2 separate regions of the Homo sapiens genome follow, and region 1 is linked to region 2. The links come from fine-mapping of genetic effects on gene expression. A gene starts in region 2. The other region holds a variant in brackets. All regions are shown on one strand. Distances are from middle to middle. Region 1 overlaps PLPP4 (phospholipid phosphatase 4). Region 2 holds the start of LINC01561 (long intergenic non-protein coding RNA 1561).

Evidence for each region. PIP is the estimated chance that this variant, and not a neighbour inherited with it, causes the effect.
Region 1: its variant is fine-mapped to the expression of LINC01561 in cerebellum (GTEx, PIP above 0.99). The same link has a PIP of 0.9 or more in cerebellar hemisphere.

The regions. Positions count from the first base shown.
Region 1 is chr10:120,572,666-120,577,665 of GRCh38, reverse strand. It overlaps PLPP4 (phospholipid phosphatase 4), which reads right to left. Exons shown (of 7, transcript NM_001030059.3): 6 at 2,365-2,535. Among named protein-coding and RNA genes, the nearest start is that of LINC01561, 23 kb to the left of the region's middle. RefSeq lists an enhancer at 2,040-2,539. The variant G/A (reference allele first, on the strand shown) is at 2,617.
Region 2 is chr10:120,595,054-120,600,581 of GRCh38, reverse strand. It overlaps LINC01561 (long intergenic non-protein coding RNA 1561), which reads right to left and starts at 2,633. Exons shown (of 1, transcript NR_103717.1): 1 at 459-2,633.

The DNA of each region.
Region 1 (5,000 bases), 23 kb after region 2:
GTTTGATTCCCAAATATGGTTCTAACCATCACTGAACATAAATTCTCTTGCTTTGCTTTCCCAACAGCCCACACAGGATGAATATTCTCCCTTGACTGCTCATAGTTCCTTTCTGTGCCTGTTGGATAGTACGGTTTCAAAGCCCCAGTTGCCAACAGGCCTTGGGTACACCAGCTGCAGCATAAATTCACCATTCCCTAAAGACAAGAGCTGTGATTCCACATTCCTTTACTCTGGCCATGTTACACTACCACAGCTAGGAAATGAGGAACAAAACAGGGTAGGGCCAGAGAGTGCTGAAGACAGGCCAGCCTCACATCCTAGGTTGTTAGTACTATGCAAAGGCTCTTATTGACTCCAAGATAAAGGAAAAATTGATTCAATTCTGAAACCCCCAATCATTCCCCGAATCCAAAGTGGTTGAATAAAAGTGAAAACCTGGCATTCATAGCTTACAAATAAATCATGTTCCAAAAAAAAAGTCTGTCTCCAAGTCAGTTGTTTGGGAAACACAATGCATCCTTCCTTAGAAAAAATGTACTAAGCAACAATGATACCACTTTGCATGTGTGTAGTAAATTTCCATTTACAAAGAACATTTGGATCCATTATTTCATTCAATCTATGAAAAGCTCTGTGAAATATTAGGGATAGTTCCTGTGCTCAAAGAGGAAACTGGCTCACAAGGGATCAATGAGAAGCAGTCCATAAAAGGCCATTTGGCCCGTAATATTCTTCATGGGGAAATGCCCTAACTCACATAGGTGGGAAACAATTCTGCGGGAACATATTCCCAGTTCCAATGGGGGGCTGTGCCTCTGTTTTTGTTGGCCCAGTGACTCTGTCCATCCTTCCATCTCATGATGCGGCTTCTTATCATCCAGAATTTCATCCAAGTCATTGATAAAAACAGAACAAGGGCAGGTTCAGACCTGTGACCCTCTTCTGACCTCCCCCATCAGGAGGGCCTCAGACCTTAGTAGCACTTGATGCTTGCTGCATCCACCTGTCCAAACCATGTCAGCATCTCTTTCCCTATACCCTTCATCCTCCAGCCCAAAGCTCCTGCTGGGGTCACAGGACACCCAGAGCATGAGCTCCAGGAGGATACGGGGTAGGGATGAGACCAGGAAGGAACAGGAGAAGCTGTGTAGTGCTAGAAGGAGCACAAGGTCTCCAGAGAAGATGAGGAAGGAGGGGCTCTCAGCTAGGAGTTCCCCTCAACCCTGTCCCCATCCATTGCCTCATTACCACTGCAACAAACCCCCGGAAAAGGTAGGAAGAGGGCAGTCCTGCAAGGCAGCTGGCTGCAAAGACAGAGAGAGGAAGGAGGTGAACAATGCCCAGCAACAGTCGGAAAACAAGAAAGGGAGAGGAGGTTTGGGTCACAGACCTATCATGGAAGCCCATTCATTCAAAGAAGCTGGATTCAGGCACACTTTCTTTCCTTTGTTTGGTTAAAATTGACACATATGGTGGAGCTCTTTACCAGTGTTTCTTAGACTTCATCAGCAATGACAGGCTTGCTTATTATCCAGGAAGATTCTAGGCCACTGCTCCAGATGCACCCCTAGAGAGTCCAATTTCTAGCTCAGGGCAGCTTGATCAAGGTGATCCAAGGATTGCCCTTGGGAAACCCTTCCCTAGACCCCATGCTTCCTGGAGGCCACACCTCCCATGGACATCACCTCCGTCTCAGCTCTCTGTGTGCTCTGGCAGGTGGTGGTTGTCTTTCAGACAGACTGTGAGCTGCAGTTTGTCTGCAGAAGGACATGGCATGGTTTAGTTATATTTCAGGAACAAGCCCCTCCCTTGTTTTGTGTTATTTTGATTTTTAACAAATACCCCAGGACTGATATATGTATATATATAGGCAAACCTCACCCCAGGCTTGCAGCTGCTGCTTGGAGCATTACTGGAATGAATCCCTGGCTAGATATACCTTTCGGAAGAGCATCCATGGTGACAAATACGTCCTTGTAGGCTGGATTTGATAAGCAAAGGAAGCCAAAAACCACTTGGCACCAACTCTGAGGACTGAGGCAAGTGATCCAGCAGGAAAATCACATTTGGGTCTCAGGCCAAGGGTGACACTAAACCAAAGGGCCTGACATTCTGGCAGGACTCAAGCAGTCTCCTGGAGCATGAAGGAGGAAGAAGAGCTCCAATTCTTTCCCCAGGAAGGCCAGACCTCACTTGAACCAGCATATTTGCTTCAAAATTTTATCCGCTCTGTCATTTCAGCCTCCTCTGGTTTTGGACAATGGGCACTTAGCTCCCCACAATTGGTGCATTTCTACACCCATCCCTGGAGGAGAGGGGCAACCACAGTGAGGACTAGTCAGGCCCTGGGCAGGGACTCACCTTGCCAGTGATGCTTGTAGTCGCACATGCGGGACAGGGCAATCATCATGGCGCAGTACAAGGGCAGGATGGCAGCACAGAGCCGCCAGCTCTTTCCCCGCCCACTCTCGGTGAAGCAGTGCAGCTTGCCCGCCAAGTAGAACGTCGTGAAGCCAAGGCCCGAAAAGGCAACTGCCAAACAGAAACAGCAGGTGTTACTCTAGCAGGTGGTGAGTGGCAGGGACTCAGTGCGTGCTGGGCATTCCGTCTGCC[G/A]TCTTGCACACCCCCAAGGCCAAGGCCATGTTGGCACCAGGCACTATCTAGGCAATCTGTGCTCCTGCTAGCACCATGCTGCTATGAAACTTTCAACCATAAGAATAATCTTCCAGGGTTATATGTGATCAAAACCTATTTTATTTCATCCATTCATTCAATAGTTACTTCAGGAGTCTCCACTCTGTGCTAGACAGGCACTGCACTAGATGTGGGGAATAAAAAGATGCATCAGATACTATCTCTGGAGTCAAGAGGCTCATGGTCTAGTTGAAGGACATACCATGCTAAGAGATAATTTTAATATAATGTGATACATTCTATAAGAAACAAGTACATACAGAGCAAAGGACTGTGAGAACTGCTTAGATCTGAAGGGCATGGGAAAGTAAAGGGGCTAGGATCAGCCCCAGGTTTTTGGCTTGGGAGACTGAGTGTACAATGGTGGCATTCAGTAAGATGGGACCAGCAAATGCTACAAAAGAGTGAGTTTGATGGAGAAGTCAGCGATGACAAATACCTTGTTTTCTGTCCGAAATAATGGTTATTGTTTTTTCTGAATTGCAAAGACAACTCATGGCTGTGCTAAATCCATTGTCGAAAGTGTAGAGGTCTGAGTGTAGCATGTATAAGCCCCAAGCTTTACATCCAAGCAGGTATAAAACATAGTTGGGAGCTCAGTGAGATTTAAGTTGGGAAGCGCTTACAACAATGGTCCTCAACCCTGGCTATACAGAGTCACCTCTAATACCTGGGAAGCTTTAAAAAATACTGATACCCAGGTTCCATTGCCAGCCATTCTGTTTGTAGTGGTCTGGAGGGAGCTGAGAGAGAGAGAGAGAGAGAGAGAGAGAGAGAGAGAGAGAGAGAGAGAGAGAGAGTGTGTGTGTGTGTGTGTGTGTGTGTGTGTGTGTGTGTGTACTCCCCAGATGATTCTAATGGTGGCCACAACTAAGCTTAGAGGCTTTTATTGAAGGCAGGTGTTACAGCTCCCCATCCCTCTGGACACCAGTCTAATCCAAACTTTCTTCTTGATTAGAAAGTACTTCTGAGGGGATGGAGCTCCTAGGTAACCAGCCCACACAGTGACTTGGCAAAACGAGTATTATAAATACTCTCAATGCCAATACACCAGCAACTTTAAGAGACTGCCCAAAGCCCTGAGCCACGGTCTGGGCATCATGCAGGCATTTGTGACAAATGCAGATCCTCAGGTCCAACCCACACCTGCTGAGTTAGAATCTGTATTTCACAACATCCACCAGCGATCTGTGCACACACTGCACTTGGAGAAGCCTTGGCCTAAAATACATTCATTGTCTTTATAAGAGACCTTGGAAAGTCCATCTTAAGAAAATAATATAAAATGTAAGGGAAATCTAGAAGATTTTCTGCTCAAAGTTATTGATAAATATTGAAAAACTGAAAATGATCAGTACAGAAGAATAGATAACCAAGCTGTGACATTTCCTTGTAATGGACTATGATGCAACCATGAAAACCACATGATTATGTAACAATATAGACAATACTTAGGATGCATGCTAAGTGAAACAAGTAGGACCCTAAACTGTAAGTTCAAGATAATCATTACTATAGTACCAAACAGTGAACAACCTGCAGCTTTTCCAAATTATCTCTGATAAGAATGTGCCTTCTTAAAAGCGATCTCGGTTACAAACACAAGATTATACCAAAGTAGAACTTTTTTCAGCAACCAAATTAAACAAAGTTACAGTGGTTTAAAAAAAAATTTTAATGGAATATTAAACCAGGTTTATCGTAGGTATAAAGATGCAGCAAAAGAAAGTAAATCTAAATGTGAGTGGTGTGTGCATTGAAACACTTCTGCGTAATGATTAGCACCCTCCCCCTCCTCACAGTGTGTAAAATGCTTGTTTTCTTTGAGAAGAGAGTAGCAAGTTCTATGGCTAGAGTCAGAAAACATGTCTTGGACAGCCTTCCTGGTTTTTTGTTGTTGTTTTTTCTCCTCCCCGTTGAACTTGAACCTGAGCCTTGATGATTTAGAGTCCTAGGATTTCAGAGTTAGGTCTGATGAATAACATCAGAGCCGTGCCAATAGATATTAAGTATTCTGCTTAAAGTAAAAATATGTGAGAAGAAACTGCATGGCCCAGCCCTGCTCTAGATACTGTGGTGGGAGGTTATTAAGTGGTTTACATGATGTTCCAAAGTGGCCCTATCTGGCCACCAACGTAGCAAGCACAACGACTTCTTAAATTCTATCCTCATCCCCTTTGCTCTGTTCCTTCTATTCATTTACATTCTTCCTTGAGGTATTCCAGTGGGAGAGGAGGCTGGAGAGTTGGATCCCATTGGTATTGATCCCATCCTGAGCTCCTTCAGGAGGAATAATGGACTTT
Region 2 (5,528 bases):
CAGAGCCGGCCTCGGGCTGGCCTCAGGCTTCTGCAGCATCCTAGGGCTTCCCTCTGCCCCCATGGATCCCACATTCACTGGCCACCTGTGCACCTCGATGTCCACTAGGGCCCAGCACCTATGCTCCCACCTGCTCCCACCTCCCCACAAGGTTGGTGACCTGGAGGCTGGGAGGCCCATAGACAGGGTGCTCAGCTGCAGCCTAGAAAGCTCTCAGCTGGCTCTCCTGACCCCCAGCTTAGATCTTCAGCTTGGGCTGCTGCTCTCCCAGCTCCCACTTCTCCCCAAATCTCCATCCCCCTTGTGACTTTCCAGGTTCAAGCTTCCCGTTTACGTTCCCAGTTCCATTCTGCCTGCACATGCCTGTCCTTGGAACATGTTTCTGGAACAATAATCTAGTAATGAGATTCCAACAGACTACAAAACATGAAGAAGGAGACACAAGGAAGGAACAAGGCTCTTTTCTGTTTCTTAATGTTCATTTATTCAACAAATACTAATTGAGCCTCTATTGTGTGCCAGGTTCCATTCTAATGCTGGAGACACAGACAACACAAAACAGATGTCCCCTACTCAAGGGGCACATGGCACACAGGGAATAGATGCCTCATTACATCTGTTTAAGAAACAACATAGCCACTGCAGAGATTCACAGCAGGCTGAACACGTGTTTATCTCCACTCCTCTTGCATCCACTAAAATGATAGTAAAGTTGTAGACCACCCATAAGGACAAAGGAAATCGGAGACGGTAGAAGAGAGATTGATTTCAGCAATGTTTTGAAGATAAAAATCTAGATGGACAACAACTTCAGCCATCTTTCTCTGCTCTGACAAGGGCCTGCACGGGGAGCACGCAGCTTTGGGCTGCAGAAGTCCATCTGGAAAGGCTTGGAAACTGACCACCCCAGGCAGGAAGAACAACCAAATTCACTGCAGGCCAGAACTGTGTGTGGTATTAAATGCGCAGGCTCTGCAGAGAGATTGCAGGATTCAAATTCCGGTCGTCTGCTCACTGGCTGTGTGATATAGGTCAAGGTTCTAAACCTCTCTGTCCCTCTTTGTCCTCATCTGTACACAAGGGGCAGCAAAAGTGCCTTTCTCACAGTGCTGTTCTAAGTGCGCCTGAGAACCCGCTGCAAGCACTCGGTGTAGCCCCGGACACAGAGTGAGCACTCAGTAAGGGGCAGCTATTAGCATAGCTATTTCTTCTCTCTCAGCTCAGAGCGTCTCCCAGAGCAGCCAGTCCTCACACCCTGCCCCCAGAATGGAAGAACAGGTGGAAGCTAATACCATCACTGCACAGTATCGTTGGGAAGTTGTATGGCATCCCTTTGTTTGAGTTAATAAAGCTCTTTCCCTCCTTTAGATTAAAAAAAGAAAGAAATGGAATGAACAGCGCTCTGCCTGGCTTCTCCTCCACATCTCTGAGGCGGGTTTCCCCATAGACCTGCAAATCACTCAGCCTCATGCGACCATCATGCCAGGAGGGGCATGAGGTGGCAGCAGTCCAGCCTCTGCATGTCACTGCACAAAGTTGACTCCACAGAGGGGAGTGACACCCACAAGGCCACACGCTGGTGACTTTTGGGGATGGGAATGCAGAGCCCTGAGGCCTCACCTGCAGTCTCCCTGTCCCTCGACGTTGCTTCCCATGTGAAACTGGCCACAATTCAAGGAGACAGGCAGAGCAAAGGGGGTTTTATAACACGTGAGCCTCAGGCCCTATTTTGTCCCAAACCACACTTGTGTCTCCCACTCCTACCCCTCCCCCTCTTGTCACATGGCTCCTTGTCTCGTGGCACCAGGCTCTCCAGAACCCCAGTGTCGGAAGGTGTCCCTCTGAGCATGGAAGATTTTCCACCACGATGGAGCAGCCGGATTCTCAATGGCCAGAGGTGCAGGGAGAGCAGTCAGGCTTGTCCTGAGGAGCAGTGACAAGGCAGATGGCACCACCTTGTGAGAGAGGAGAGCAGCAGGATGCCCCAGTCACAGCGGCATGCAGGTGGCCCCAGCCAGATGGCTTTTCCCAAGTCCAGATTTTCAGGCTGATCTGGACACTCAAGATTCCCAGCTTCTGTGCTGAGGAGTCCTGGCCTGCTCCTGAGCTGGTGAGACCCCAGTTCCCCTGAGAGCCTGCTTCCCAGCTGCTGTCTGGTTTAGGGCCCACAGTTGACCCCTCTGGGAGTCTGTTTGGCAACTCAGAGGATGCTCTGAGCACCTGGGGGAAGAAAGTACTTGCTGGCCTCACCCCTGGGACTCTCCAGGCCATCTGTGCTTTCTCTGCTCCTCCTGGAATCTGAGGGGTTCTGGTCCCAGGAGCTCAGCCTGTCCTCCTGACATTGACACAGGAGACAGCAAAGCTACACCACAGATATACCACAATACAAGCTTCCGCAGAGCCAAAGAAGCAATGGCTCTGCTATTACATAGGCCTCGATGCTGTTGTCTTGCTCTCACAAGCTGTGTGACCTTGGGGAGGTGGCTTGCCTTCTCTGATCCCCAGTTCATCTGTAAAGTGGTGGAAATTGGATGAACGAACCCATTGCACAGAATATCCAGTGCTACTCAAAATCCTGGCACTGAGTTCTTAGGAAGAAGCCTCTGGACAAGGAAGGCCAGGGAGTGTAGAATTCATCTATCAAATATTTTAAACAAAATGGTCAGCATGTGAGAGAGGCTCAAGACACGACTCTTCTGGGAAATGCATTCATGTAGAACAGCCCGTGCCTCACAACACAGTGACAGCTCACATTGACCAATCACAAGAGCTAACATTTATTGAGCACTTACCGTGTACCAAGCCCTGTACTAAGCACTTTCTATACATGCTTTCTTCATTTAATCCTCACAAAAAAACCCATCTTACACATGAGGACACTGAATCTTTGAAAGGTTCGTAATTTGCTCAAGAAAGTATCTGAGCTGGATTTGATCCCAAGCATGGCTGAGTTTGCTCTTGTCCATTATGAGGGTGGAAAATCACTCTATTTTGATGATATTCATCAGATCAACCCCAAAAGGCAGCCCCTGCTTTGCCTTGGGGGTTCACCCTCAAGTTATCAGCAGTGAGTGTGACTTCAAAGATCATTCTTTTCTATTTGTTTTTAGAGACAGGGTCCCTCTCTGTCGCCTAGGGCTCAAGTGTGGTGACATGATCATAGCTCACTGCAGCCTCAAGCTTCTGATCTCAAGTGATCCTCAGAGGTAGCTGGGATTACAGGTGTGCACCACCATGCTCAGCTATTTTTTTTTTAAATTTGTTGTAGAGATGGGGCCTCACTATGTTGTCCAGGCTGGTCTTGAACTCCTGGCCTCAAGTGATCCTCGTGCCTCCACCTCCTAAAGTGCTAGGATTACAATGTGAACCACTGTGCCAGGAAGGGATCTTTCTAGAGCTCCAGGGTGTAGATATGGGGCTGACTGGGAGTCCAGGATAACCAGCTGAAGATTGGAATGTTCTGCAAAGTCTGCTTCAGTCAATGGCAAGTCCAAGTGAAACACAGTTTATATGATCCAGGGAGAGCTATATAAACTACCCACCTTTAGACAATCTCTATTGTGTGTGTGTCTGCATGTGTGTACACACATGTGTGCACATGCGTGCAAGGAGGTATCTGACTCCTCTTTTTAAGGAAGGCTGGGTCCATCATTTCCTGAAACTCCCCTTTCACTGAAGCTCTCTTTGCATACACACTATCCTTGCTGGCTCCTGGAATACAGGTATGAGCACTTTTTGTGCAATTGGTTTCCATGTGAACGAAAACATTCTGCAATCCCTAAGAGGCTCACAAGCCTCTGGGTCTTTTCATGGGTTTTTCTAATTTCACACTTTTCTCCAATAATTCAAGTATCCATCAGCTTAGCTCACCCCCTTCCTTGGATAGATGCAGGTTCTCCCTGCCCCTCTCCTGCTCCCCTTCTTTCAGGAGGCCTCCTAAGGAGTGAGCCCTGGTGTATGGAGGCTTCTCACTCCTTAGCACCCCTAAAGCTGCTTGTCTTGTCCTGGCTTTGGCTCAGATGGGCCTTTTTCTCCCAAATAGCTGGTGCCTGGAGCAACATCTGACTTAGGTTGAATACCCCTCAGACATATTAATGTTTCTAAAAATCAACATAGTGAATTTTGCTGTATTATTAATTCAACCTTCTTATAGGGGGAATCTGGTTCCCTAAGAGGATAAATTGTATCATTACCTACTGGTGGCAGCAGCGATTAGAGGGATTATAATTCAATTAGGGTTTTAATACCTGATTACCATAACAGTGTTGCCAGTGAAATTCTCCTGCTTGTATCAGAATTGCTATTTACTCTTCAGAGATGCTACAGACTGAGTGTTTATGTCTCCTCCCAAATTCATATGTCAAAATCCCAACTTCCAATGTTATGGTATTAAGAGGTGGGGGCCTTTGGGAGGGCATTAGGTCATAAGGGTAGGACTCTAATTAATGGGATTAGTATTCGTATATGAGGGACCCCAAAGAGTTCCCTTGCCCCTGCCACCATGTGAGGACACAGTAAAAAGACAGGGGTCTATGAACCCTGAAGCACACCCTCACCAGACACTAAATCAGCAGGTGCCTTGGTTTTGGACTTCCCAGTCTCCAGAAATGTAAGAAATAAGTTTTTGTTGTTTATAAGCCACCAGTCTATGATAGTCTATTGTAGCAGCCTGAACAGACTAAGACAAGAGAGTTTTAGTGCCAGGTGCTTACTTTATTCATGTCTCAGATACCCCAGGAGCTCTGCAATAATCACAACTATCATGGTCTGATATCTTATTATGTTGTCGCAAAGGTACTTGCTGTTTTGATCATTACTTTTAATGGCAAAACTACAATTACTTTTGCACCAACCTAATACATTCTAAATCACTAAACCATTGTAAAAGGTCCTATAAGGTTGGTGTTATTCCTGTTTTGCAGATGCAGACACTGAGGCTCACGAGTGTGAAGCAGTTTGCTCAAGGTTAAGTGGCAGAGATGTTGGCAGGGCTGCCTGGCCCCATTCTAAGTGGTTCTTTCCTCCGTGCTATCCTTGAAGAGCACTCTGTATGTGGATGAAAGCAGGTGTTTAGCATCACAGTGTATGATGTCCCCAGGGCATCTGTGACTGTGTTCTATGTCAGTCTGGGGATCTTTCCAGGGCAAAAAAAGAAGAGACACCACATAGCAAGAAGAGACGCCACCCATCACACAGCATATTTTGTGTTAAGATGTTACTCTCATTGTCTGTCACTGAGAGCATTATTATTCCTGATCATTTACAGAATCCACTGGCAAGCAGTCATGGCAGCACCACTGCAAGCACTGGGATGAAAAGATGTCATCAAAGAATAAAAAGGGGCACCGGGTGCAGTGGCTCACGCCTGTAATCCTAGCACTTTGGGAGGATCACAAGGTCAGGAGATTGAGATCATCCTGGCTAACACGGTGAAACCCCGTCTCTACCAAAAATACAAAAAAATTAGTCGGGTGTGGTGGCGGGCACCTGTAGTCCCAGCTACTCAGGAGATTGAGGCAGGAGAATGG